Linked DNA regions of Homo sapiens. The protein of the gene in region 1 interacts with the protein of each later gene in a pairwise test. Each region holds a gene or a part of one and is shown in the gene's direction. Other genes may lie near its edges. The genes, in order: CCDC90B, TK1, MOB2 and TSC22D1.

Region 1 (3,819 bases):
AAGGCAATTAAAATTCTCTTCTCACAGATATATGTATATTTTACTAGCCTAACTACGTAATTTTTTAATATAAGAAAGATTTCATTTATCATGAGATCTGAAATTAGAGCTTATAATTATTTAAAGTAGTCAATAATGCTAGCGTTAATGATTTTAAATACAGGTTATAGGTTTCTAAATGACATAATTTACATTTTAATATACAGGTGCTTTTAAGAAGAATTAGGCATTAAGGCTGCCCTTAAGAATGTCTTTCATACTTAATTGTCTAGGGAATAAAAAACATAGGATAGAAAATTGGTTGGATTTCCTGTTTTTTGCTCTTCACTTAAAGATAACATTATTCTCTTTATCTCTGCAAAATAATTACAGATACAAGACCTATAACACAGTTTCTTCTTTTCACAGCTTCGGTGTTTACTTGCCTGGCAATAGCATTGGGATTTTATAGATTCTGGAAGTAGTATTAATGCTCATCCTGCTGTGGCTGTTGGCTTCTTAGAACACCAAACCGGGAGAGATTTACTTTGAACATTGTCAGTTGCAGCAAAAATTTACTACACAAGATTATTCGAAGTGTATACGGACTAAAAGAGGAAGTGTTTTAGAATGAGAAGAGATACTGTGTCTTTATTGTGTGTGTGTGAGTGCAGGTGTGTGTCTTTATTATATTGAAAAGCTGTCACTCAGACCTGGTTTGAGATAGAAGAGCATTTTGTCCTTTTGATAGTTAATAGAAATTGAACCAGAGTTTTCTTATGTTTGCTTGAACAGTTGTGTAAATCATACAGGATTTTGTGGGTATTGGTTGAATATTTGTAAACCATTCCCTAGCCTACATATTTATTACTGAATTAACTTTCCTGATAACCATTGCATAATTACATTTTTCTATAAAATGAAAGATTATTACAACAAAGTTGTGTGGGTTTTCAAAGTGACTTACCATATAGTTGGAGATTGATTTCTTTTTGGTAATGAACTAAAACAATAAATTTTAAAATGATAGGCCAGGCGCGGTGGCTCACACCTGTAATCTCAGCACTTTGGGAGGCTGAGGCGGGTGGATCACTTGAGGTCAGGAGTTCTAGACCAGCCTGGCCAACATGGTGAAACCCCGTCTCTGCTAAAAATACAAAAATTAGCCAGGCATGGTGGCACATGCCTGTAATTCCAGCTACTCGGGAGGCTGAGGCAGGAGAATCTTGCAGTGAGCCGAGATAGCACCACTGCACTCCAGCCTGGGTGACAGAGCAAGACTCCATTACCTAAATAAATAAATGTGTGCTTTAGTGCAAATTACAACACTTAATATGAAATCTGTAGAGTTGCTAAATATTGAGCTCTGATTATTACATGTATTTTTTAAATATTTGATACTCAAAAACCAGTTTATCCCTGCTTCTTAATGTAGTTTAAGTTAACCCATCTTAAATTTATTACATAAAACAAAGCTTTTCTTAATGACTTCAATTCAGCAAACATTGATATCTAGTACCTACTCTCAAGAAACTCATAGGAAAATTTAAATTCGTATTTTGTTTTGTTATTAGATATATTTTTTCTTACAAAGTAATATCTATTAGTAAATCATATGTAATTTCAAAGAAATTTTAAAATATCCTTTTCATCTTAGTTCTTCAGTCTTACCCAGATCAAGAAGACAAGACCAGAAAGTAAACATTTTGAGTTCATAATGCCTTGGTAATAGCTATAAAAGTTTGACAATCATTATTCAAAATAGCCTTGTCATTTGTTTAGCTATAAACAGGGAATCTGCAGTATAGAGCAGTCAAGAGATTGGTCCATATGGTCCAGTGAGTGAGAGTCAGGCTTTCCAACTATATTTTCCTCAAAAATCTAACTGCTGGTTTGTTTTCAAAAGAAAAACCTTGACATTATCCTGTTACATTCTGATTCATTTTTATCTCTATTGCCTAAGAGAGTTCTTAGTATATTATAGATTAATTTTCACTGAGTCAATTAATAAGTTACCATATATATTAAAGTCCACTGTAACAAAGTATACTGCATTTGTTCAGTTAACCAATATGACTGCCTGCTATATGCCAAACAGCATGCTAGTCCCTGTGTGCACAGAGATGAACATGGTTTCATTCTCATTGAATTGACAATCTTAAGGAGAGAGACATAAACAAGTAAATTATTGGTTTGTTAAGATTTAAAATATTCTAAAATATTAAGAGGGAATGCGTCTTTCCTCCATGTGAAGGAAGCTCCAGTAGCATAACACTGTCGTCACTCTTCATCCCCTTATCCACTCTGCCCTAGGTAAAGTGACTTGCCCAATTGTAAATCTGGAAGGAGAAACAAGGTGCAATTAGCCCACTTCCTCCCCACTCCTGTTTGGGACCAGCCCATCTGAAGAGACATTCATTCTGTTCTGCTTCTATGGGATCAGGCTCTGCCTCTGCAGGATGAGGCCTGGCCCAGTAGAGCAATGCTTGAGACAGGGTAAATCTGTCCAGTTCTAGAGTTCAGTGATAAGAAGCTTACTGGCCTTAAGATGAAACCCATATTCTCTTGCTGAGCACAGTGGCACACATCTATAGTCCTAGCTGCTTGGGAGGCTGCGGCAGCAGGATTGCTTGAGCCAAGGAGTTCATCAAGGCTAAAGTGTACCATGATCATACCTATAAATAGTCACTGCACTCCAGCCTGGCAACACATGAGACCCTGTCTCCTAAAAAAAAACTTCTCCAATAGTTTTATCAGCAAATAAAGGTGTTTTTTAGGCCTCTATATTAGTTTATTCATTCTTCATCTTAGTTATATTCACAACCCAGAATGGAAAGGAGGTATGCCATTTATTGGACCTTCTCAAGCCCCAACAAATAAATATACTTATTCCCAGGTTATACAGCCACTAAATATTAAATAGATCTGCGTTCTTTCTCATTGTAGGGGTTTAGCAAACAAAGTGCTTTGTATCCAATAACAGAAGAATAGAAATATGCATACCATACCCTGTCCCCATTACTTTTAGATCCTATATCCTTTCCATGAAACTTCATTTTGATGGTGGTTCTGGGGTTCAGGTAAATTTTTGTTTCAGTGATGGAAATATATGAAATAAGGATGAGAGGATTGTGTTTCTATATGCCTTAAAACTATACCTCTATTCCAGCACTTGCACTTCACTATGAAACAGCAATTATACGTATCTTTTTCCTACACTAAACTACAAGTTCTCAGAAGGCCTCTAGACACATGTGAGGTACTTGTTAAACGCCTGTGGAATAAATGATACTCATAAATCTCAGTTGACCTTAATCCAAACTTTTTAATATTTTAAATATTTAATTATGGGTATGCTGAAAATACTGCATTCATACTGAGTGAGCGTAATACACCTTTTAGGCATTTTCTATGAGTGGTAAGAAGCCTCCACAAGGATTAGCTACTTTCACCATGTTTATAGCCACAGTGTAGATCCTAACCTGCCTATCCATACTGCTTTGGTGACAAAATAGGCCAGGCAAGAGTATGTAAGGACTTGGCAAGAGTCAGGAAAAACCCTCACCTATTGGAAAAACAATTAAAAGCTTATAATGTTGTCAAACTTGAAGAATTTGGATATGTAACACTTGTTTATTTTTTAAGTATTTTTTAATATTTAAAAAAAGGGCAGTGGGAAAGGCTGTAGTCATTATCACTGAAACTACTGATTGCTATTTTGAAAAAAAATAGCTATCATTGACTATATGAGGGCAAATATGCTAAATAACATATATGTGCTCACCTATTTTCACAGCTCTCCTCTTAGGTAGATGGTATCCTCATTTTACAGCTGAAGAA
Region 2 (7,311 bases), on another chromosome or scaffold:
GGCCTGGGTATGGATGGCTGAGCAAGAAAGGCCAGGCATGGTCGACTGAGCCGTGGACCTCCCCCGGACCTCTCCTGCCTCCAGTAGTCCCTGCAGCAAGGGGTCCTGGGCACCTGCCCCTGAGCAGGGAGGTTTATAAAGTGCCTGGTGTTTGGGAAATGCCCCTCGAGGCCCAGGTGGTGCAGCACAGCCCCCCCAACCCCCAGCATTCTGAATCACTGCCACATGCTTAAGGACACCCAATGCGGCCACGGAGAGGTCACACTAGTACCTTCAATTCCTATCTGTGAGTAGGTCCTCAAGGCTTCCTCTGCTCCCAGTCGGACAACCCATCGGCTGGGACAGTACTGATTCTCCAGCTCCTGCAGGGCACAAACATGAGGCTCCGTAAGACTTTCCTTCTCAACAGAGTGTGCCCCTCCCCCTCGCCCATGCCCGGCTGCTCCTCTCTGCCTTAGAAGCCCTCGCCCCAGTATCCCAGGGTCTCCAAGATGCCCTCAGATCCATGGTCTAGAGGTATACCAGCGACCGCTGTGCCTTTAGCCAGCTGGCAGCCTTAAGGGGAGATGAGGTCCCCCAAACGAATTCAGTTAATGCCATCATGGGCACCACTCCCACAGCAGTTACGACCAGGGGAGGCCAGGTGGCCCGGTGGCTCACGCCTGTAATCCTAGCACTTTGGGAGCCTGAGGCAGGTGGATCACTTGAAGTCAGAAGTTTGAGACCAGCCTGGCCAACATGGCAAAACCCCATCTCTACTGAAAACAAAAACTAGCCGAGCGTGGTGGTGTGCACCTGTAATCCCAGCTACTTGGGAGGCTGAGGCAGGAGAATTGCTTAAGCCTGGGAGGTGGAGGTTGCAGTGAGCCGAGATCGCACCACTGCACTCCAGCCTAGCGACAGAGCAAGACTCTACCTCAAAAAAATTAAAAAAGGAGGAGCTGATCTGCGCTGAGAGGGTGCGATTCTGACCACAGGAGGTCACTGCACAGTCAAAGGCACAGAGGTGAGGAGGAAGGAATGAAAGGTCAGTTTGCAAATGCTGGCAGGCCCTATGGCTGACACACAGAGGTGAGGCTGGGAGGCTGGGCTGGAGGAGGAGGGGCGGTGAATGTCGGGCTAACACCTTCACACTTTATGCAGAAAGTAACAAGGAACCATTCTGAGGCAGTTTGGAGAATTAAAAAAAGAAAAAAAAAAACAGAGGCTGGGCGCGGTGGCTCACGCCTGTAATCCCAGCACTTTGGGAGGCGGAGGCGGGATCACGAGGTCAGGAGTTCAAGATCAGCCTGACCAACATGATGAAACCCCATTTCTACTAAAAATACAAAAATTAACCAGGCATGGTGACGCGCGCCTGTAATCCCAGCTACTCAGGAGGCTGAAGCAGGAGAATAGCTTGAACCAGGGAGGCAGAGGTTGCAGTGAGCCGGGATCATGCTACTGCACTCCAGCCTGGGCGACAGAGTGAGACCCCATCTCAAAAAAAAAAAAAAAAAAACCAACAGAAAATGCTGGACACGGTGGCTCTCGCCTGTAATCCCAGCACTTTGGGAGGCCAAGATAGGCAGATCACTTGAGTCCAGGAGTTCCAGACCAGTCTGGGCAATATGGCGAAACACTATCTCTACGAAAAATATGAAAAATCAACCGGGCATGGTGGTGGACACCTGTAGTCCTAGCTATTCGGGAGGCTAAGGCAGGAGAATCGCTTGAGCCCAGGAAGCAGAGATTGTAGTGAGCCAAGATTGCGCCATTGCACTCCAGCCTGAGAGAGCAAAACCCTGTTTCAAAAAAAAAAAAACAAAACACTGGGCGTGGTGGCTCACACCTGTAATCCCAGCACTTTGGGAGGCTGAGGCGGGTGAATCACCTGAGGTCAGGAGTTCGAGACCATCCTGGCCAACATGGTGAAACTCCGTCTCTACTAAAAATACAAAAATTAGCTGGGCATGGTGGCGGGCGCCCGTAATCTCAGCTACTCGGGAGGCTGAGGCAGGAGAATCGCTGGAACTCGGGAGGTGGAGGTTGCAGCGAGCTGAGATCCCACCATTGCACTCTAGCCTGGGTGACAACAGCGAGACTCCATCTCAAAAAAAAAAAAAAAAAAAAGTAACAAGGAACCAGATTTTGAAGAAAGGGCTCAAAACCATCATGAGAAATGGGAAGTCAGGGCAGCCTCATGGCAAGGCCTGAGGTCAAATGCCATCTGACCTCCCTCACTTACTTACTGTTTTATCCTCAACAAGTTACTTAGTCTCTGAGATTCAGTTTCCTGACTGGTAGAAGGTATCTATCCAGGCCCGGCACAGTGGCTCACACCTGTAATCTCAGCACTTTGGGAGGCCGAGGCGGGTGGATCACTTGAGGCCAGGAGTTCAAGACCAGTCTGTCCAACATGGCGAAACCCCATCTCTATTAAAAATACAAAAATTGGCCAGGCGCAGTGGCTCATGCCTGTAAACCCAGCACTTTGGGAGGCCAAGGGGGGCGGATCATGAGGTCAGGAGTTGGAGACCATCCTGGCTAACACAGTGAAACCCCATCTCTACTAAAAATACAAAAAAATTAGCCGGGCATGGTTGCGGGCGCATGTAGTCCCAGCTACTCAGGAGGCTGAGGCCGGAGAATGGCGTGAACCCTGGAAGAAGAGGTTGCAGTGAGCCCAGATCGCGCCACTGCACTCCAGCCTGGGCGATAGAGCGAGACTCTGTCTCAAAAGAAAAAAAAAAAAAATTAGCCAGGCATGTAGTACCAGCTACAGTGTGCCTGTAATCCCAGCCACTCGGGAGGCTGAGGCAGGAGAATCACTTGAACCCGGGAGGTAGAGGTTGCAGTGAGCCGAGATCATGCCACTGCACTCCAGCCTGGGTGACTGAGCGAGACTGTGTCTCAAAAAAAGAAGGCATGTATCCAAATCACAAGGTTAAAAGAGATAAAGCATGCGAGTAAAATAAAGCAAGCCAGTCAGTGTGGGTTGCTTCTTCCTCCCAGTGAAGGAGCTCTTTGTCAGAGGTCCTTGGATCTGTCCAATCTGTACCTGGAAAGGTTATTACCTGTAGGATCCTTACAGCCACACCTGGCACACTCTGTGATCACTACCACCATCTTTGTTGCTATTATTTATGATCATGATTATACAATGGGTTTCTTTTCTTTCTTTCTTTTTTTTTTTGAGCCACCGCACCCGGCCTGTATGTTTCTAACCTTCACAACCCCAATGTAAATACCAGCTGTTCTGAATCCTTCAGCCTGTGCCACATAAGCACAGACCCAAAAACATTGTGTAACCTCAGATCAAGGTCCAGAACTTTGTCCCCTAACCTCCTGCGGGTCTATGGATTTTTTTTTTTTTTTTTTTTTTTTTTTTTGAGACTAAGTCTTGGTCTATCGCCCAGCCTTCCAGGCTGGAGTACAAATGGCATGATCTCGGCTCACTGCAACCTCCACCTCCTGGGTTCAAGCGATTCTCCTGTCTCAGCCTCCCCAGTAGCTGGGATTACAGAGGTACATCACCACGCCCGGCTAATTTTTGTATTTTTAGTAGAAACGGGGTTTCACCATGTTGGCCAGGCTGGTCTCGAACTCCTGACCTCGTGATCCGCCAAAAGTGCTAGGATTACAGGTGTGAGCCGCCACGCCTGGCAGGGTCTACGGATATTATTAGCATAGTCAGGACTTCAATTTTCTTTATCCTGAAAACCAGGTTAACAAAAATCCTTAGGAGAAGGTAAAATACACCATGGTGCTCAAGCACTGGGGACCTGGCACGCACTAGGCGCTCTGCATGCCCACAGGAGTGCTCTAGACGGCTTCTAAGCTTCCTTCTTGGAATTCCAATCTAATAAATGAGCTAACTCCGCCCCAGCCCCTTAGTCCCTCCCTGCAATCCACCTACCTCTGCAGACATCTTCTTCCAAGGAACCTTGCTTGGGAAACCCACACCAGACACATCCATCATGGCGTCTACAGCCGCATGGGCGTGCGTCCCTCTGTTTATATGGCCAGAGCCCCGCCTCGCTCCGCCCCTTTAAACTTGGTGGGCGGACCGAGGCGGGGCTCAGACCAGGCCCCACCCCGATCAGCCACGTCCATCGCCCTGATTTCCAGGCCCTCCCAGTCCCTGGGCGCACGTCCCGGATTCCTCCCACGAGGGGGCGGGCTGCGGCCAAATCTCCCGCCAGGTCAGCGGCCGGGCGCTGATTGGCCCCATGGCGGCGGGGCCGGCTCGTGATTGGCCAGCACGCCGTGGTTTAAAGCGGTCGGCGCGGGAACCAGGGGCTTACTGCGGGACGGCCTTGGAGAGTACTCGGGTTCGTGAACTTCCCGGAGGCGCAATGAGCTGCATTAACCTGCCCACTGTGCTGCCTGGCTCCCCCAGCAAGACCCGGGGGCAGATCCAGGTGCGGGGGCCAGCCCTGCGCGTGGCTGGGGATGAGGTGGTCGTGGTGATAGCCTGTGTCCAGGCATCCGCGCAGGGCGGGCCCTCAAATGACCTCACCTTCTCTCCTAGGTGATTCTCGGGCCGATGTTCTCAGGAAAAAGGTAATGGCTTCGCGGGGCTGGGGTGGAGCTCCTTCCTCTTCTCCGGGGACCCCTTGTCCCGTCCCTCCCCTCCCCTTCCCTCCCCTCCCCTCCCCTCCCCTTCCCTTCCCTCCCCTTCCCTTCCCCTAGAAGGACCAGCACAGCCTCCTACAGCTCCCGCCTGGGGTGCTCCTCCCTTGAATTCAGTCCAGGAGGAAGTCTCTGCCCTCTTCTGCCCAGGCCAAGCCCCTCGTCCTGTGTGGACGCCACTCCCTCCTGGAGCTGGTGACAGCTGCTTACAGCTTAGCTGTCTTCCCCACCAAGTCCTCTGAGAAGGTGGCAACCAGTTGTGTCCCCTGTAGGCCAGGCCTTTTTGTACACCCCTATTCAATGTGGCTGTTTCCTTCTAAGGCCAAGGAAACGTAGTCGCTTTCTAAACCAAGGAGTCTGAAGCCGTGGAGCCTCTGCTCTCCTGAGGTGATAGAACCATTCCCTGACCCGGGTGGGGCTAGTGAGTTTCTTGAGTAAACTACCCACGCACCATTCTTTTTGTTTTGTTTTTGTTCTTCTAGAGGTAGGATCTTGCTATGTTGCCCAGGCTGGTCTCAAACTCCTGGGCTCAAGCAATTCTCTCACCTCAGCCTCCCAAGTAGCTGGGACTACAGGCGTGCACCCCCCCGCCTCCACCCAGCTAATTTTATTTTATTTTTATAGAGCTGGGGTCTTGCTATGTTGCCCAAGCTGGTCTTGAACTCCTGGTCTCAAGCAATCCTCCTACTTCAGCATCCCAAAGTGCTGGGATTACAGATGTTAGCCACCATGCCCTGCCCCAACATTCTTTTATGGCCCTGGGGATCACTTCAGCTCAAACCCCTTGCTCAGGAAGATGTGGCTCAGAGTTGGACTTCTTGGACCCAGAAGCAAGTGCTTTTGACGCTGCACACAAAGACTTTCTGAAATTAATTTAGAAAAGCTGTATGCCAGGTGTGGTGGCCCACGCCTTTAATCCCAGCGCTTTGGAAGGCTGAGGTGCGTTGATCACTTGAGGTTAGGAGTTTGAGACCACCCTGGTCAACGTGGTAAAACCCCATCTCTACTGAAAAAAAAAACCAAAAATTATCTGGGCATGGTGGCAGCCTCCTGTAATCCCAGCTACTCGGGAGGTTGAGGCAGGAGAATCTCTTGAACCCGGAAGGCAGGGGTTGCAGTGAGCTGAGATCGCTCCACTGCACTCTAACCTAGGCAACAGAGCGAGACTCCACCCCAAAAAGAAAGAAAGAAAAACTCTGAACTCTGGGAACAACTCTGGGATGAGGTTACTTTGGAATGCAGTCGCAGGTTCCCTCTACATGTAGCCTTTGCTTCTGCCTTCCCCACTACATCTTGGAGAAGGTTACTCCTCCCACACTTCCTGGGACCACCTGAGTACCATTCCTGGACCTCTTCCCCATAGAGAATTCTGACTTCCAACCCTCTTTGTAGGGATATTATACCCTGCCTGCTCTGCCCTGCTCTTTTCTGGCTGTGGTGGGCTCAGTCTGCATACCACTAGGGACAATGAGGAGCCAGGCTTGTTGGGGAGGGGTCTCCTTCTCCCACTCCTCCCGCCGTGGACCTCACCTGACCCTCTCTCCTCTTGCAGCACAGAGTTGATGAGACGCGTCCGTCGCTTCCAGATTGCTCAGTACAAGTGCCTGGTGATCAAGTATGCCAAAGACACTCGCTACAGCAGCAGCTTCTGCACACATGACCGGTCAGTCCCTGCCCCCTGCAGTCCTGTCCAGTGGAAAATCACAAGGCACAGGACACACTGTTAGGACTCTCTTTAATGGGGATGGTTAATCATTTGAACATTGAATGATTCAAATCAGCACACTTTCCAAGGTGCTTGGCAAGGTAGCGCACACTCTCCACTCCCTGGGCTGGAGCCAGTGGTTCTCCACTGAGGGTGATTTTGCCGCCAGGGTCCATTTGACAATGTTTGAAGACATTTCTAGTTGTTGCAACTGGAGGGGGGAGGGGATGCTTTTGGGCTTTAATGTGTAGAAATCAGGGACACTGCTGCTAAGGGTCCTATGGTGCAGAGGACGGCCCCCATGCAAGAACGAGCTGGCCCCAAATGTCAGGAGCCTGCCAGTGTTCAGAAACTCTGCCGTAGGGTTTCAGCTTCACACAGGCTGCAGACTGGTTTGGTTTGGCCTGCACGTTGATTTTTGTTTAATTTTTTAGTTGTCCGTTGTTGGCTGGCTCCCCCGTCACCTGGCAGCCTTCACGCTTCCCTGTTTTATGTGTAGCTGTTTGAGCTCGCTGGACATTTCCGCCTGCAACCTCAGTTTGGGAGTTAAATTCACTTCCTTGGCAGCAGATGTGGGCCTGATGTTTCTGAGCCTGAGACGCTTTGCTTGGTCCTCTGGACTTGTCCACCTGGGCACCCAGTGGCAAAGCCATGCTGTGCCACACATTATAGGGCTTCAGCCTCAGAGCCCTGGCTGGGAGCTGTATCCGAGAGTTGCTATGGCTGTGCAGAGAACAGATCCACCCGGCGTGTGGCCTTCGGTGGGAGCTGAGGGGCTCCTGAAGCCAGATGCTGGTGGAGTGGAGGGTGCTTGGGGCTTGGAGTTGCATGTGGGAATTTAACCGCACTTCGTGACCATGCTGTCTGATGTAGGTCATTTACTTTTCCAAATTTGCTTCCTCATTCCTAAGATGCGATGTCCACGGCACAGGGTGGTGTTACACCTGGTGGGGACAGGGAAAGCAGAGGAGGTCACTTCGTTCCAGCTGTTG
Region 3 (7,032 bases), about 82 Mb from region 1:
TGGGTGCCAAGGAGGCCGACTGGCACGTCATGGGTACCACTGGCGAGAATGGGGAGGGTGGCATTTGACAGGCTCTTAAAGGACCAGGAGAAGTTTGCTAGGCCTGGTGTAAGATGGGCAAGTTGGCAGAGCAGCAGCTGGTGCCCACAAACAGGGTGCAGACCCCTGTGGCAGGCAGGACAGGTCATCTAGAGCAGGGAGGAGGGAGGTGAGGCTGGTGAGTGTGTGGGAGGCAGGAAGGAGGTGGTTCCATCTGGCCCGGCCCTCCTAAGTGCATGGTGCCTGCCAGGCAGGACCCAGGCTCAGAGCCCACCTGTTGGAATAGTGTGAGGGACTTTGTTTTGGGGGCTGTGCACACAGCATCTGCCCTTCTGCTTCTTCCAAGTGGTCACGGAAGCCCTGTGGGTGGGCTGAGGTCCAGGGTCCACTCCCCAGTCCCTTCAGCGCCATCTCTGTCCTGCCTGCGGCCGGGGCCTGCTCCCACAGTCCTCCCTCCACATCGAAGGACTTGGTCTTTCTGTGCCCCGGGGCTCCTAGCCAGCAGCACAGGGGGAGCTGGGAGCAGGGCGCAGGGCCTCGGCACTTCCCTGGGTGAGGGGCAGCTGGGCCACTGAGGCAGTGACTGGGCAGACCTCTGGGCCTGGACGGCACAGAGCCTGTTTCAGAGCCTGTGAGCCTGCGGGGGGCGCCGCAGAGGTGTTTTCTCCACTGGGCAAAGCCAAGAATGACTAAGGACGAGAAGAGTGCCATGGAGGTGTCGTGTGCTCTGAGGCCTCCTCGGTAGCTGCCGCTGGCTTGGACCGAGCAATGGGCTGCCTCAGAGTGACTGCTTCCTGCCCAGGCCTGGGCCTTCGCTGAGAGCCTGCCCTTCTGGGAAGGAGGGCACTTGAGGTCAGGGAGACGTGGGTGCTGCCAGGCGTTCGGGGCTTTCCCATGGAAGTCCCTCTGTTGGTGCCCGCACAGCCGTTCCTGGAGCAGAGGCCATGTCCTGCGCGTCCCCTTGGTCCTACTACCTTTGGGCCAGTGCCCGTCCACCTGCCCCATGGGAATGAGTGACCCGGTCCAAAGAAGGTAGGCTTGCAGGAGGCTTGTCTCACAGTGCACTAAGCTCCGGGGCCCGGCCAGCCCTGGGTGCTGGGGACAGGGTGAGACTGGGGGAGCAGCTCGGGGAGGCCCAGCCTGGAGGGCCTCGTGCGTACTTTTCTTCTGTGTTCTAGGAGAGCAGGTGTGGACGGGAAGAGGCAGGGAGGCTGAGGTGCCAGTGCCGGAGTGGCGGCTGCTCACTACCTCCTGACCACAGCCAGAGCCTGGGAGAGGGAAGCCAGGTCTCCAGGTTCTGCCCCTGCCCAGCCCTCTCTGAGGACCGGAGGTGGAAGGTAGCCCCAGCCTGGAAGGCTGGCAAGGGGGCAGGAACTGCCAGTAGGGCAGCCTCCCTGAGTGGGCCCTGGGGCACACCCTGAGAGTGAGCGCGCTGACAGCTGCTCCTGCTGGCAGCCCTGCGTGACCGACCACCAGGTAACTGCCACCTGGAGCTTGCCAGTTGACACAGCTCCTAAGACACAGAGCAGGGAGACGGCTTGTAGCCCGCTTGGCAGCCTGGGCCACTGCAACCCACCCCTCCAAATGGGAAGGCCGAGCCCAGGCTGTAGCTGCCCGGGTGGGGTGTGGTGTGCTGTGCTGTGAGAGCACAGGGCAGGGAGGTGCAGGCCCACCTGCCGGTGGTCAGGGCCAGGCCCAGCGTCATGGGGAGAGCCTTCCCTGTGGTGGACACGCTGGGCATGGCCTGGCACAGGCTGGTGTGGAGTCTGGGTGCCTCGCTGTGCTGGGGCGAGGGGCTGCAGGCTACACGGAAGCTCACCCTGTCTGTCCCACCCCTGTACTGTGAGGACCCCAAGTGCCCACGCTGCATGTGGCCCATCCACACCTGTGCTTCCTCTTCCTCAGACCCCACGCCCTGTGCTCTGGAGAGATGGCAGAGTGGGAGTGCCAGGGCCCAGGGGCCCTGCCCCTGCCCCTCCCTGCCCCTGCCCCTGCCCCTCCCTGCCCCTGCCCCTGCCCCTGCCCCTGCTCCTGCCCCTGCTCCCTGCCTGGCTCTGGCTACTCCCAGCACTGCCCCCAGAGGCCTGCGCTGGTCTCCTTTTAAGGCGAAGATCTGCTGTGAGAAGCTGAAAGGGAAACATTTCCCTGGCATTCAGGGAGCATTTTTCCTTTCTCTTTCTCTTAAATAAACCATTAGCAACTTTTCAAAACAAGAAAGAAAAAAAATAAGGACAGGGTCAGGTTGCCACAAAGACCTTTGGCCCCCATCCTCATCACCCTGTGGCCTCCCCAGGCCTGGTGGACAACAGGGATACTGGAGCTGCAGGCCAGGCTGCCGCCTGATGCCAGGGGCCCCGTGCTCTCAGGCTGGCCAGGAAGGCAGGTGCCCTGCACAAGGCCTGTGGTATGTTTTCACCGGGGCCACCAGCGGCAGGGGCAGGGACAGGCTGGCCAACTCAAAAGAAGCCAGGAGTGAGAGGGTTTGCTTCTCCTTTCCTTCCAAGAGCACTGGAAAACTGGAAGGTGGGCGCTGGGGGCCCTAAACCCTGGGCCCCTCCCTGGTTGGAGGACTTGGTGAGGGGTGAGGATGCCCTCCGTGCAGGGGCCCGTGTGGCAAGTGGGAGCGCCAGCCCTTCTTCCCAGGAGGTGCCACGCAAGGCAGCTCCACTGGCCCCTCTGCGGAGCAGCCTCACCGTTGGTGTCCCGTTGGTGTCCTTTGAGCCTGGCAGGGAGGCAGTGTCGCCCCGATGGGCTCGGGCAGCTCCCTCTACACCTGCGCTGGCCACAACTGACCCCCCGGGCAGACCCTGGGTCTGATGGGCGTGTAGTGACCACACCGCGTCTCCTCTCTTGGCAGGAAGTCCAAAGCCAAGCCTAATGGCAAGAAGCCCGCTGCGGAGGAGAGGAAGGCCTACCTGGAGCCTGAGCACACCAAGGCCAGGATCACCGACTTCCAGTTCAAGGAGCTGGTGGTGCTGCCCCGCGAGATTGACCTTAACGAGTGGCTGGCCAGCAACAGTGCGCGGGGGCCTGGGGGCGGGCCCCCTCCCTCCTCCCTGCTCCTCCTCGAAGCCCCTCCTCAAGGGGGACCCCCACGGCTGGTGCTCAGCAGCCCCCTGCCGCGAGGGGAGAATGTGGCCCGTGGACGGGCAGAGCTCACCCAGCCGAGCTCCTGCACCTGTTGCTGGAAGCAGGGGTGGACGGGGCGGCTCAGCTCTGGCGTTTTTCACATCTGGCTCCTTCTCTTCTCTTCCAGCCACGACGTTTTTCCACCACATCAACCTGCAGTATAGCACCATCTCCGAGTTCTGCACAGGAGAGACGTGTCAGACGATGGCCGTGTGCAACACGTGAGTGCTGCCTGGCTACAGCCCACTTTCTCTTGGGAGACTCGGTGGGGCTCTGAGCCCCCGCTGCCCCAGGCTCCTGTCCTCTCAGATTCCGTTCTCACCTGGAGACCCTGAGAAGTCTTGGCACAGGCCTTCCACAACATCCACCTTCCTGTGGAAAGGCCACAGGCTGGGCCAGTGGCCCAGCTACCCAGGTCCCCAGTGGGGCCCAGAAGGTGCAGGAGCTGGTGGGGGTTGATGGGCTATGTTTCTAGGGACAGAGACGTTTCCAGAAGGAATGCCCTAAGATTGCAGAGAGCCCTTCTCCGCTGGCTCCCGTGACAGCTCTGGATGGGACAGTGAGGGCTGGGCTGGGCAGGCCACAGGTCCTTGCTCGGCCATTCATTTCATGGGGGCTCAGTTACCTTCTCCGTGACCATCCAACATGCCTGGTGCTGGTAGCTCTCTCCTGGAAGCACTGCACCCTGATTTCCTCAGTAAATGGGTGTCCGTTAGTGGCCCTGAGCACCTCACTTGCGTAGCATGGGAAGGAGCGCCGCCAGGCCTGGGTTGCTGAAAGCAGCCTTGGAGGCTGCAGGCAGGAGGAGGCTGGGTCTGCTGGGCTTAGCCTGGGACATGTGCGGCTGAGGAGGGCGGAAGCTTTTCCCTGATGTCCCGTTGTTGTCAGTGCACACAGGTCAGGGACAGAATGTGTGCCTGTGAGTGCGTCCTGAAAGTCATCCTGCCCACAGACATGGCTTTCCTGGCCCTGGCACAGGGAGACGTGGTCCCCAGACAAAGCTGAGTTCTGCCTTCAAGAAGCCAAGGGGAGCTTCTGCACAGGCAGCTGGCAGGCGTCCCCTTGGCTTCAGTCCTGCTGGGCCCTGCCCTCATGGCCATGATGGGTCACAGCTTGGTTTGGTTATGGGTGACACCGGGGCAGGTACAGACAACAGCTGGCTTCACTGTCTTAATTCCCCAGGAAAATGAGGTGTCACAGCCAGGCATGGCCCAGGAAGATGGGGACAGTGCTTATGGCTTTGAGGGGAGCAAGCTCAATGTGAGACGGCGGTGGCCTCCATGGATCAGGCATGGAGATGGGTCCTGAGGTGGCAGGGCAGCACCCGAGAGCTACTCGAGAGCCTTGTGTCCACTGTGGCTCTGGAGCCACCTGTGGCCAAGTGCTGGCTCAGCGCCTCTGCTCCTGGGCAGACGGGGCCTGGCACCCTTCCCAGAGGCTCTGCTCCTGCATGTTCTGTGGTACTGGGTTGGTTTGGAAAAGGGGTCCTTGGAGGAGTGTAGGATGTGGTGTTGGGCAGACCTATGTCCCCTTGGAGGGCCTAGGCCACCCAGATTTGCCTCTTGGTCCTTCTCATCTGGAGCTGGCATCATGGTGGTAGTAGATGTGTGTGAATTAATTGCATGTAATGCCTTTCCAGGAATCCTTTCAAACCAAGGGACAGAAATCCACTCAAACTAAGAGAAACATGGAGACTTCTCAGAGGGCCTCAGGGCCACTTGCCACCCAAAAGACCAGCAAGTCTGCCTGGGTCGTGTGAGGGCTCTGGGATTGAGGCGCGTCTCCTCCCTGCTAGGGCCTGTAGGACAGTCCCAAAAAGGCTGATGTCTGACTCCTAGGGAGACGAGAAAGGGGGCGGGGCCGGAAACACATTGCAGCAATAATGGCTGAGAACTTCCCACAAAGACACAAACCTGCAGACTTAAGAAGCTAAGCAAACCCCAAATAAGGCTCACAGACACGTGCAGATGCATGCAACCAAATGCTGAGAACTGGGGGCAAAGAAAAAGCCCTTGGCAGCCATCCTCTGTCAGCAGTCAGACGGCGGTGGCCTGGTACTGACAACAGATGCCGCAGTGAATGACCGTGGCACTTTTAGAAACCCAGGAGGCCAGAAGGAAGAAGGAAGCCCCACACATCTTCCAGTGCTGGGAGAAAAGAAAGGTCATCCCAGAATTCCACATCCAGTCAGTGTCCAAAGTCACTCAAAACCAAGAGCCCTCACAGCCAGCAGACCTGTTCCAGAGGCTCCCTGCAGAGTTCTCCCAACAGGAGGGCCTCCTCCCACTGAGTGTTTGTGGAGACGCCAGTGATGGTGCAAGAAGACAAGAGTAGTGTCCGGCAGTGCCTGTGCAGTGCCGTTCCCAGGGCGGCCGTGGGGCCTGTGCAGTGCCATTTCCAGGGCGGCCGTGGGGCCTGTGGTGGCGGTGGGGCTGTGGCGGCTGTGGGGCCTGGCGGCGGTGGGGCTGTGGGCAAGAGAGCTGCTATGCTCCAGTGGAAGCACATGTGTGGGTGCCATGGAGAGCATGTGGGGTTGAGTTGCGTGTTACAGCCCTTTGAGCAGGCCTTGCAGAGCTTATGTGAAGAGACGCAGTCAGAATCAGAATAGGTAAATTTAAATGAAATACAAAAACATTTCAGTGGCCCAAGAGAAAGCAGGAAAGAAGAAATACCATAAGGAATGAGAAACAGAGGCAACAAACAGCAAATAGTGGAAAACCTAAATGCTAACAGATGAACAGACGGGACTGGGCAGCTTATGAGAATGTATTTTTAAAATAACCAACTCTCTGGTGTTTACAAGAAGCTCATTTGTTGTATTTCATTCGGGATGCTGTCACGAAACATGATAGGCTAGGTGGCTTGTGAACAACAGAATCTTATTTCTTGCGGTTCTGGAAGCTGAAAGTCCAAGGTGAAGATCCACTGTGGACCAGGAAGGGGGCACTGACCACGTCACTGGATCTGATTAGCCAGATTCAGTGTCTGGTGAGGGTCCCTTTCCTGGTCCACAGACAGCACCTTCTTGCTGGAAGGAAGGCAGGGCGACGGAGCCACCAGTTCTGTTCATGAGCGTTCTACCCTTGCAACCTCATCGCCTCCCAAAGGCCCCATCTCCAGATACCCTTGCGTCTGGGGTTAAGCTTTCAACATAGGAATGTGGGGCATAAGCACCCTGTGTGTCACACCACTCTAGGTGCTGTGGTGCAGGCGGGTGAGAAGTAAGAGGACAAGATGTGCTGAGAAAACACCCATCAGAAGGAAGCGGAAGTGGCTATGTCAGTGCCAAAGGAGACTCCGAGGAAGGAAGTGACCAGGAATAAGAAGGTTATCTAATTAGAAAAGGAGCAGCTCTTGAAGAAATCCTGCCATAAATGTGTGTGCGCCAGACAACAGGGCTTTCCACACAAAGCAAACGGACGGCCTGTGTAGAAATCACATGATCGCCGGGGATTGCAGCCCTCTCCTCAGTGATGGAGCCTCATAGACAGTCAGCGAGAGCACGGAGCCCGATGACCCCACCCGTGGGTTGGATTGAAATGACACATGCACTGCAGCCTCAACAGCAGAACACCCATCTTTTCAACTTCACAAAGATTAGCCACCAAGATGGAGCATACCTGTCACAAAAGAGCCCTTAACAAATTTTAAAAAATCAAAACCATACGAAGTAAGTTTTCTGACCATGGTGGGGTTAAATTAGAAATCAGTAACAGAGAACAGGAAAGTCTCCAAACACTTGCAGACTAATACAATTCTGAGTAGTCCATGGGTCCGAGAGGATGCCTCAACAAAAAAACTTTAACAAACTGTACACAGGAAAATACAGCATGTCAGAATTTGTGAGACATAACTCAAGCAGTG
Region 4 (7,465 bases), on another chromosome or scaffold:
TTGGGAGGCTGAGGTGCATGTATCACCTGAGGTCAGGAGTTCGAGACCAGCCTGGCCAACATGGTAAAACCCCGTCTCTACTAAAAATACAAAAATTAGCCGGGTGTGGTAGCACATGCCTGTAATCCCAGCTACTCGGGAGGCTGAGGCAGGAGAATCGCTGGAACCCGGGAGGCGGAGGTTGCAGTGAGCTGAGATTGTGCCATTTTACAGCCTGGGAGACAGAGCATGACTGTGTCTCAAAAAACATCAACAACAAAAAAGTAATTCAGAGGTACAGCTTCAGAATGAAAACAGCTAAAATTCGATCTTTCAAAAGGCAAAGGATAGCTCTAAGTACTTGGTTTAAAGGATTTAATGACTTTATTATACATAGCAGTCGGCATTTAATGTTTATATAATAAAAATCCAGACCTTTTTAATTAAAAGATGATAGTATAACAAAATCTGGCTCTTGAGGTGCCTTCTCCTTGTTTCAACGTATTTGTGTTCATATATTGCTGTCGTAAGAATTTTGGAGGGGGAGAGACCCAGATTTTTGAAACTCAGATTTCCCTAACTGTAGAGTTGCCCTTTTTATTTTTTATTTTTTATTTTTATTTTTTTGAGACGGAGTCTCGCTCTGTCGCCCAGGCTGGAGTGTAGTGGCCTGATCTCGGCTCACTGCAAGCTCCGCCTCCCAGGTTCACGACATTCCCCTGCCTCAGCTTCTCACGTAGCTGGGACTACAGGCACCTGCCACCACGCCCAGCTAATTTTTCGTATTTTTAGTAGAGATGGGGTTTCACTGCGTTAGCCAGAATGGTCTTGATCTCCTCACCTCGTGATCCGCCCGCCTCAGCCTCCTAAAGTGCTGGGATTATAGGCACGAGCCACCGCGCCCGGCTGACTTGCTCTTTATATCTTAGTGGGACTTGATGCAGCCTAAGCAGGAGTTTGAAAGTGATATGGCAGGCAAAAATTAATACACTTCAAAAGATCTTATTTTCTTACGTCTTAAATTCTGGATTTTTTTTTAAACCTTTATTTTAAAGGGAATAACACCCCAACCCTTCCTCCCCCATCAAAACAGCTCAAACAGTACCCTTTGCTACTGGTCATTAGAACAAGTATCTGCTTCCAGAGGGGCTATCTCAACAGCTCTTTTACTCTATCAGCTTTGGGTAAGACTTTAATATATGTGTTTATTAAGCGTCAAAGCATATCAGCACAATCATGGTGAGTTATTTAGGTGGCCCAAAGGGTATACAGCTGCTGTTTGGGGTAATTTAAAACTTTGACTTAAAAAACAAAACAAAACAAAACAAAAAACCTTTGACTTAAGGCTACATTTTGAGAGATCAAGAGCATTTTCTTTCATACTGCAGTCCAAAGAAAGGACATTCCACCCATCTACATTCCATTGCAGTTTCAATCGGTTAGGGTAGTTTCTATTTTCCATTCAAAAACTATTGAAAAAGAATGTCAAATTTGCATTTCAACAATGGATGGCAGCGATTAACCAGGCATATTACTTGCAACAAAAGCTCAAAAAGTAAAAAAGAAATTATTTTTGTGAAAACACAAATAGCCATAGTTCTATAAAAACAACCAATCACATATTAATATCATAGAACAAGTAGTCTTCTCAAACATATTTGATGTTTATTACTGTATCACTTTGAATATTTGCGAGAGCCTATTTACTTCTAGCAGAGGTTTACATTAGCAATATAAAGTAATAAATAAATAAATAAATAAATAAATAAATAAATGAAGTCCGGGTTTTTCTTTTCAGTGTGGGAGACCCCACATAAAGCAACAATGTATCATAGCTTTGACACTGGATAAATGGGATGTTAAGAGTGCACTTCTATTCAATAACATGCAAATGGTGACATAATTCACTTTTTGAAAGCTTCCCCTTGGAACAAGGGGAAGAGTTCAGAGAAAACTAAAGGTAAAAAGTTGAACTGACAACTAGAGGTGTATCAAAACTGCAAATGACAATCGTTTTTGCTTTAACAATCTTCTGAAATAGGAATGTAAATCCTTGAGACTTCCTGAATCAGAGGTCTAACCATAAGCGTTGATTCCCCTAACAACCTAAATTTAACAAAATGAAAATTCCTCCCTACAGTTTTTCGGCTTGCTTTATCATTTTTAAATTCCTGGGAAAGACTTACATTCTCGATTATTGGTAAGAAACGCTTAGAACTAGGTTTTGACATGAAATACCAAGAAAGTAACCGCCAGTAAATTGCCCCCAATCAAACCTAACATTGCTTCTGTAGAACTACATTTGGACCCATGAAATGTAACGTGTGTGTGTGTGTGTATTTTAAAACTGGAATTTCGGATGGCTTTTTCTTTTCTAGCCCTAAAAGGCATTCTTATCATTTGTGTTGCTCACATGTCCGGACCACCTTGCCTCCTGAGTCAAACCAATGGGGGATATAGCCAGGACGATGAACGAAAAAGGCGTCGCTGCTTGGAGACACCTGTTGAGGTCAGTCGATTACAGGGCCGGCCTGCTTCTGTCCTCCAGTTAAGGATGGATTGCAACCACTCCTCGTTAGAGAAGAGCCTAGCCCAGAGGAGCTCAGGCAGTTAACTGGAAACAGCTGCAACATCTGCCCGGCCGCCTCGCCCCTGCCCGTGGAAGGGCGAGGGGACCGCATGGCAGCAACTGCACTGCACAAAAGACAACACCTATCACCGGGAGCCACCGGCCTTCCATAGACCCCACAGCTCCCGGCCCTAGGGCATCCCCCGAGGAGGCAAGGGCCGGGGGCGAGCCCAGGTGCGGCGAGGGGGAGGAGGTTTCCGCCACGCGCCAGGGAAGAAAGCCTGACTCATGTCGTGGCAGCGGCAGCAGCCGCGGCGGCGGGCTCCTGGGAACTGAAACTCGTGATGCTGTTGCTGCGGAGAAAAGCCTCATTACCCATTCCGCAGGCGGGGGACACCACCCAAGGCGCGCACACCAAGCGCCGGCGCTCCCGCCGCCTCCGCCGGCCCTTCCGCGCCGCGCCCCCTCCTCTGCCGCGTGCCCGCGCGCGCCGGCCGCGAGTGTGAAAAGAGCGGACACACCTAACCTGGGCGCGCGGCAGGCGCGCACCCTGCCCGCCCCCACCGGGCCGAATCACGCAGTCCGACCCGGATTCGCTCCTTCGGCCGGAATTCCCCACCCCCACTATCCCCTCCGGCTCCACCACTCCCGGCTTCGGCGCCTCTGCCAGCCTTCGGTAATTTCCGTCGGGAGACCTGGCGCTCGCCTAGGCCCGAAGACCCGCCGCCTCCTGCCCCGCCAGACCCGGCTTTATGTCTGCGGCGCCGAGGCGCATGCGCAGACGCCATCTTCCCTCCTCCTCCTCCGCCTGCCCCCTCCCCCCAGCCACCACCGCCTCCTCTCGCCGGCGGTCGCCCCTCCTCCTCCTGCGCTCCGCGCTGGTCCCTCCCCTCCCGATGCCGCGAGAGACTGGGGGATACGGTGGAGCCGGGGGAGCCGAAGAAGAGCACTAGTAACAACCACCACAGCCCCCTCCCCGCCCGACACCCTCCCTCGGCACCCACTCACTCCCCCGCCCCGTTTGCCGACACCGACCAACCCCACCTCGTTCCTTTGAACGGCGTCGGCTGCAGTCGCTGCACCAGCCCGTCTGGCCACCAACGCCGCGGAGAAAGGAGCCGCCGCCGCCTGCGGCCCTCTCCCGCCCGGTCGCGGGAGCAGCGGGGTGAGGAAGAGCCGGCTGCGGAGGAAGAGGATAAGAGAGGGTCGCACCCTCCGCCCTAGCGCACGTCCCGCCGCCCTCCGGAGAGGCTCGGGTGCCGGCCCCTTCCTCCCCGAGGACGTGTGCCGAGTCGAGGCGCCTGCCCTGAGGGAGGAAAATGCTCGGGCTCCATGGCTGCCAGTGATGGAGCGGTCCCTGGGCTCCCGCTGCCACCGCCGCCGCCGCGCCCCGGCCGTGCTCCGCGAGGACCCGGCGTCTCTGCGCGCCCGCCCGCGCCTCGTTGCTGGGCTCACCGTACCGGGCGCCTCGCCGCCGCCCCGCTCGCAGCCGCGTCGCCCCGGCCCCAGCCGCGGCCAGCGTTTCCTCACCGAGCAGCCGCCGCGAGCCCAGGGGGTTTGAAAGGGTCTGCGGGGCGCGGGGGGAGGGCCGAGCGGGGCCGGGAGGGGAGGTTTGAGCGACACTGAGCTCGGGGCTCGCTGGCGGCGGCGGCGGCCCCGGGGGTGGCGAGGGGAAGGCGACATTTGCTTGGCGCTGCCTCCGTGCAGAGCGGCCGGGAGGGCTTTGCAGCGGCCGCCGACGCGGCGGGAGGAGGGGGCTGAGGCGGCTTCGGAGTTGGCCGGAGAAGGTGGGCATTTCTCGCTTTTCCTCCCCTTCCTGCGCTCTCCCCCTCCCTCCTGCCCCGCACCCCACGTGAAGCAGAATATAAAGGGGGGTGTGAGGCTAGAGGGGAAAGTGAATGGCGAAGGACTGAAGGGATCCCCCCTTCGGGTCCCCGGCCGCCCTGTTCACCCTCGTTCATCCTCCTTTCCGAAGCTCGCTCTCGAAGGCAGGAGCGACCGGCGCCTTTGGCTGAGGAGGAGGAGAAGGAGGAATCGCGCCAGGCGGAGCGTCAGGTCCCGTTTTCCTCTCCGGCGTCTCCAATACAAAGATTACGGTGCAGAAGGAAATTGCACTCGTCTCCTCCGCGCCCCCGGTACCCAACACAATGCACCAGCCGCCTGAGTCCACCGCCGCGGCCGCCGCCGCTGCAGACATTAGCGCTAGGAAGATGGCGCACCCGGCAATGTTCCCTCGAAGGGGCAGCGGTAGTGGCAGCGCCTCTGCTCTCAATGCAGCAGGTACCGGCGTCGGTAGTAATGCCACATCTTCCGAGGATTTTCCGCCTCCGTCGCTGCTTCAGCCGCCGCCCCCTGCAGCATCTTCTACGTCGGGACCACAGCCTCCGCCTCCACAAAGCCTGAACCTCCTTTCGCAGGCTCAGCTGCAGGCACAGCCTCTTGCGCCAGGCGGAACTCAAATGAAAAAGAAAAGTGGCTTCCAGATAACTAGCGTTACTCCTGCTCAGATCTCCGCTAGTATCAGCTCTAACAACAGTATAGCAGAGGACACTGAGAGCTATGATGATCTGGATGAATCTCACACGGAAGATCTCTCTTCTTCGGAGATCCTTGATGTGTCACTTTCCAGGGCTACTGACTTAGGGGAGCCCGAACGCAGCTCCTCAGAAGAGACCCTAAATAACTTCCAGGAAGCCGAGACACCTGGGGCAGTCTCTCCCAACCAGCCCCACCTTCCTCAGCCTCATTTGCCTCACCTTCCACAACAGAATGTTGTGATCAATGGGAATGCTCATCCACACCACCTCCATCACCACCATCAGATTCATCATGGGCACCACCTCCAACATGGTCACCACCATCCATCTCATGTTGCTGTGGCCAGTGCATCCATTACTGGTGGGCCACCCTCAAGCCCAGTATCTAGAAAACTCTCTACAACTGGAAGCTCTGACAGTATCACACCAGTTGCACCAACTTCTGCTGTATCATCCAGTGGTTCACCTGCATCTGTAATGACTAATATGCGTGCTCCAAGTACTACAGGTGGAATAGGTATAAATTCTGTTACTGGCACTAGTACAGTAAATAATGTTAACATTACTGCTGTGGGTAGTTTTAATCCTAATGTGACAAGCAGCATGCTTGGTAATGTTAATATAAGTACAAGCAATATTCCTAGTGCTGCTGGTGTGAGTGTTGGGCCTGGAGTTACCAGTGGTGTTAATGTGAATATCTTGAGTGGCATGGGCAATGGTACTATTTCTTCCTCTGCTGCTGTTAGCAGTGTTCCTAATGCAGCTGCAGGGATGACTGGGGGATCGGTTTCAAGTCAGCAGCAACAACCAACAGTTAACACTTCGAGGTTCAGAGTTGTGAAGTTAGATTCTAGTTCTGAGCCCTTTAAAAAAGGTAGATGGACTTGCACTGAGTTCTATGAAAAAGAAAATGCTGTACCTGCTACAGAAGGTGTGCTGATAAATAAAGTGGTGGAGACTGTAAAGCAAAATCCGATAGAAGTGACTTCTGAAAGGGAGAGCACTAGTGGGAGTTCAGTGAGCAGTAGTGTCAGCACACTGAGTCACTATACAGAGAGTGTGGGAAGTGGAGAGATGGGAGCCCCTACTGTGGTGGTGCAGCAGCAGCAGCAGCAACAACAACAACAACAGCAACAACCAGCTCTCCAAGGTGTGACCCTCCAACAGATGGATTTTGGTAGCACTGGTCCACAGAGTATTCCAGCAGTTAGTATACCACAGAGTATTTCTCAGTCACAGATCTCACAAGTACAATTACAGTCTCAAGAACTGAGCTATCAGCAAAAGCAAGGTCTTCAGCCAGTACCTCTGCAAGCCACTATGAGTGCTGCAACTGGTATCCAGCCATCGCCTGTAAATGTGGTTGGTGTAACTTCAGCTTTAGGTCAGCAGCCTTCCATTTCCAGTTTGGCTCAACCCCAGCTACCATATTCTCAGGCGGCTCCTCCAGTGCAAACTCCCCTTCCAGGGGCACCACCACCCCAACAGTTACAGTATGGACAACAGCAACCAATGGTTTCTACACAGATGGCCCCAGGCCATGTCAAATCAGTGACTCAAAATCCTGCTTCAGAGTATGTACAACAGCAGCCAATTCTTCAAACAGCAATGTCCTCCGGACAGCCCAGTTCTGCAGGAGTAGGAGCAGGAACAACAGTGATTCCTGTGGCTCAGCCACAGGGTATCCAGCTGCCAGTGCAGCCCACAGCAGTCCCAGCACAACCTGCAGGGGCATCTGTCCAGCCTGTTGGCCAGGCTCCGGCAGCAGTGTCTGCTGTACCTACTGGCAGTCAGATTGCAAATATTGGTCAGCAAGCAAACATACCTACTGCAGTGCAGCAGCCCTCTACCCAGGTTCCACCTTCAGTTATTCAGCAGGGTGCTCCTCCATCTTCGCAAGTGGTTCCACCTGCTCAAACTGGGATTATTCATCAGGGAGTTCAAACTAGTGCTCCAAGCCTTCCTCAACAATTGGTTATTGCATCCCAAAGTTCCTTGTTAACTGTGCCTCCCCAGCCACAAGGAGTAGAACCAGTAGCTCAAGGAATTGTTTCACAGCAGTTGCCTGCAGTTAGTTCTTTGCCCTCTGCTAGTAGTATTTCTGTTACAAGTCAGGTTAGTTCAACTGGTCCTTCTGGAATGCCTTCTGCCCCAACAAACTTGGTTCCACCACAAAATATAGCACAAACCCCTGCTACCCAAAATGGTAATTTGGTTCAAAGTGTTAGTCAACCTCCCTTGATAGCAACTAATACAAATTTGCCTTTGGCACAACAGATACCACTAAGTTCTACCCAGTTCTCCGCACAATCATTAGCTCAGGCAATTGGAAGCCAAATTGAAGATGCCAGGCGTGCAGCGGAGCCCTCCTTAGTTGGCT

What was found.
Region 2: the proteins of CCDC90B (region 1) and TK1 interact in a two-hybrid assay, tested with the Homo sapiens proteins (2 studies listed by BioGRID and IntAct).
Region 3: the proteins of CCDC90B (region 1) and MOB2 interact in binary tests that used the Homo sapiens proteins (3 or more experiments, as listed by UniProt).
Region 4: the proteins of CCDC90B (region 1) and TSC22D1 interact in a two-hybrid assay, tested with the Homo sapiens proteins (2 studies listed by BioGRID and IntAct).

What each region holds. Positions count from the first base shown.
Region 1 is NC_000011.10:83,258,556-83,262,374, reverse strand, and holds the end of CCDC90B (coiled-coil domain-containing protein 90B, mitochondrial isoform 1 precursor), read left to right. Parts: exon of another isoform or gene 1-408; coding exon 409-464; 3' UTR 465-2,266; coding exon of another isoform or gene 2,267-2,318; 3' UTR 2,319-3,294; downstream 3,295-3,819. Other genes in the region: ANKRD42 (ankyrin repeat domain-containing protein 42), read right to left, coding at 2,267-2,318.
Region 2 is NC_000017.11:78,184,021-78,191,331, reverse strand, and holds the start of TK1 (thymidine kinase, cytosolic), read left to right. Parts: upstream 1-4,279; 5' UTR 4,280-4,337; coding exon 4,338-4,403; intron 4,404-4,513; coding exon 4,514-4,545; intron 4,546-6,166; coding exon 6,167-6,277; intron 6,278-7,311. Other genes in the region: AFMID (kynurenine formamidase), read right to left, coding at 272-362, 3,899-3,961. UniProt on the Homo sapiens protein: Cell-cycle-regulated enzyme of importance in nucleotide metabolism. Catalyzes the first enzymatic step in the salvage pathway converting thymidine into thymidine monophosphate.
Region 3 is NC_000011.10:1,476,750-1,483,781, reverse strand, and holds part of MOB2 (MOB kinase activator 2), read left to right. Parts: intron 1-2,895; coding exon of another isoform or gene 2,896-2,896; coding exon 2,897-3,057; intron 3,058-3,295; coding exon 3,296-3,389; intron 3,390-7,032. UniProt on the Homo sapiens protein: Stimulates the autophosphorylation and kinase activity of STK38 and STK38L.
Region 4 is NC_000013.11:44,573,305-44,580,769, reverse strand, and holds the start of TSC22D1 (TSC22 domain family protein 1), read left to right. Parts: upstream 1-4,439; 5' UTR 4,440-4,695; coding exon 4,696-7,465. UniProt on the Homo sapiens protein: Transcriptional repressor. Acts on the C-type natriuretic peptide (CNP) promoter. Acts to promote CASP3-mediated apoptosis.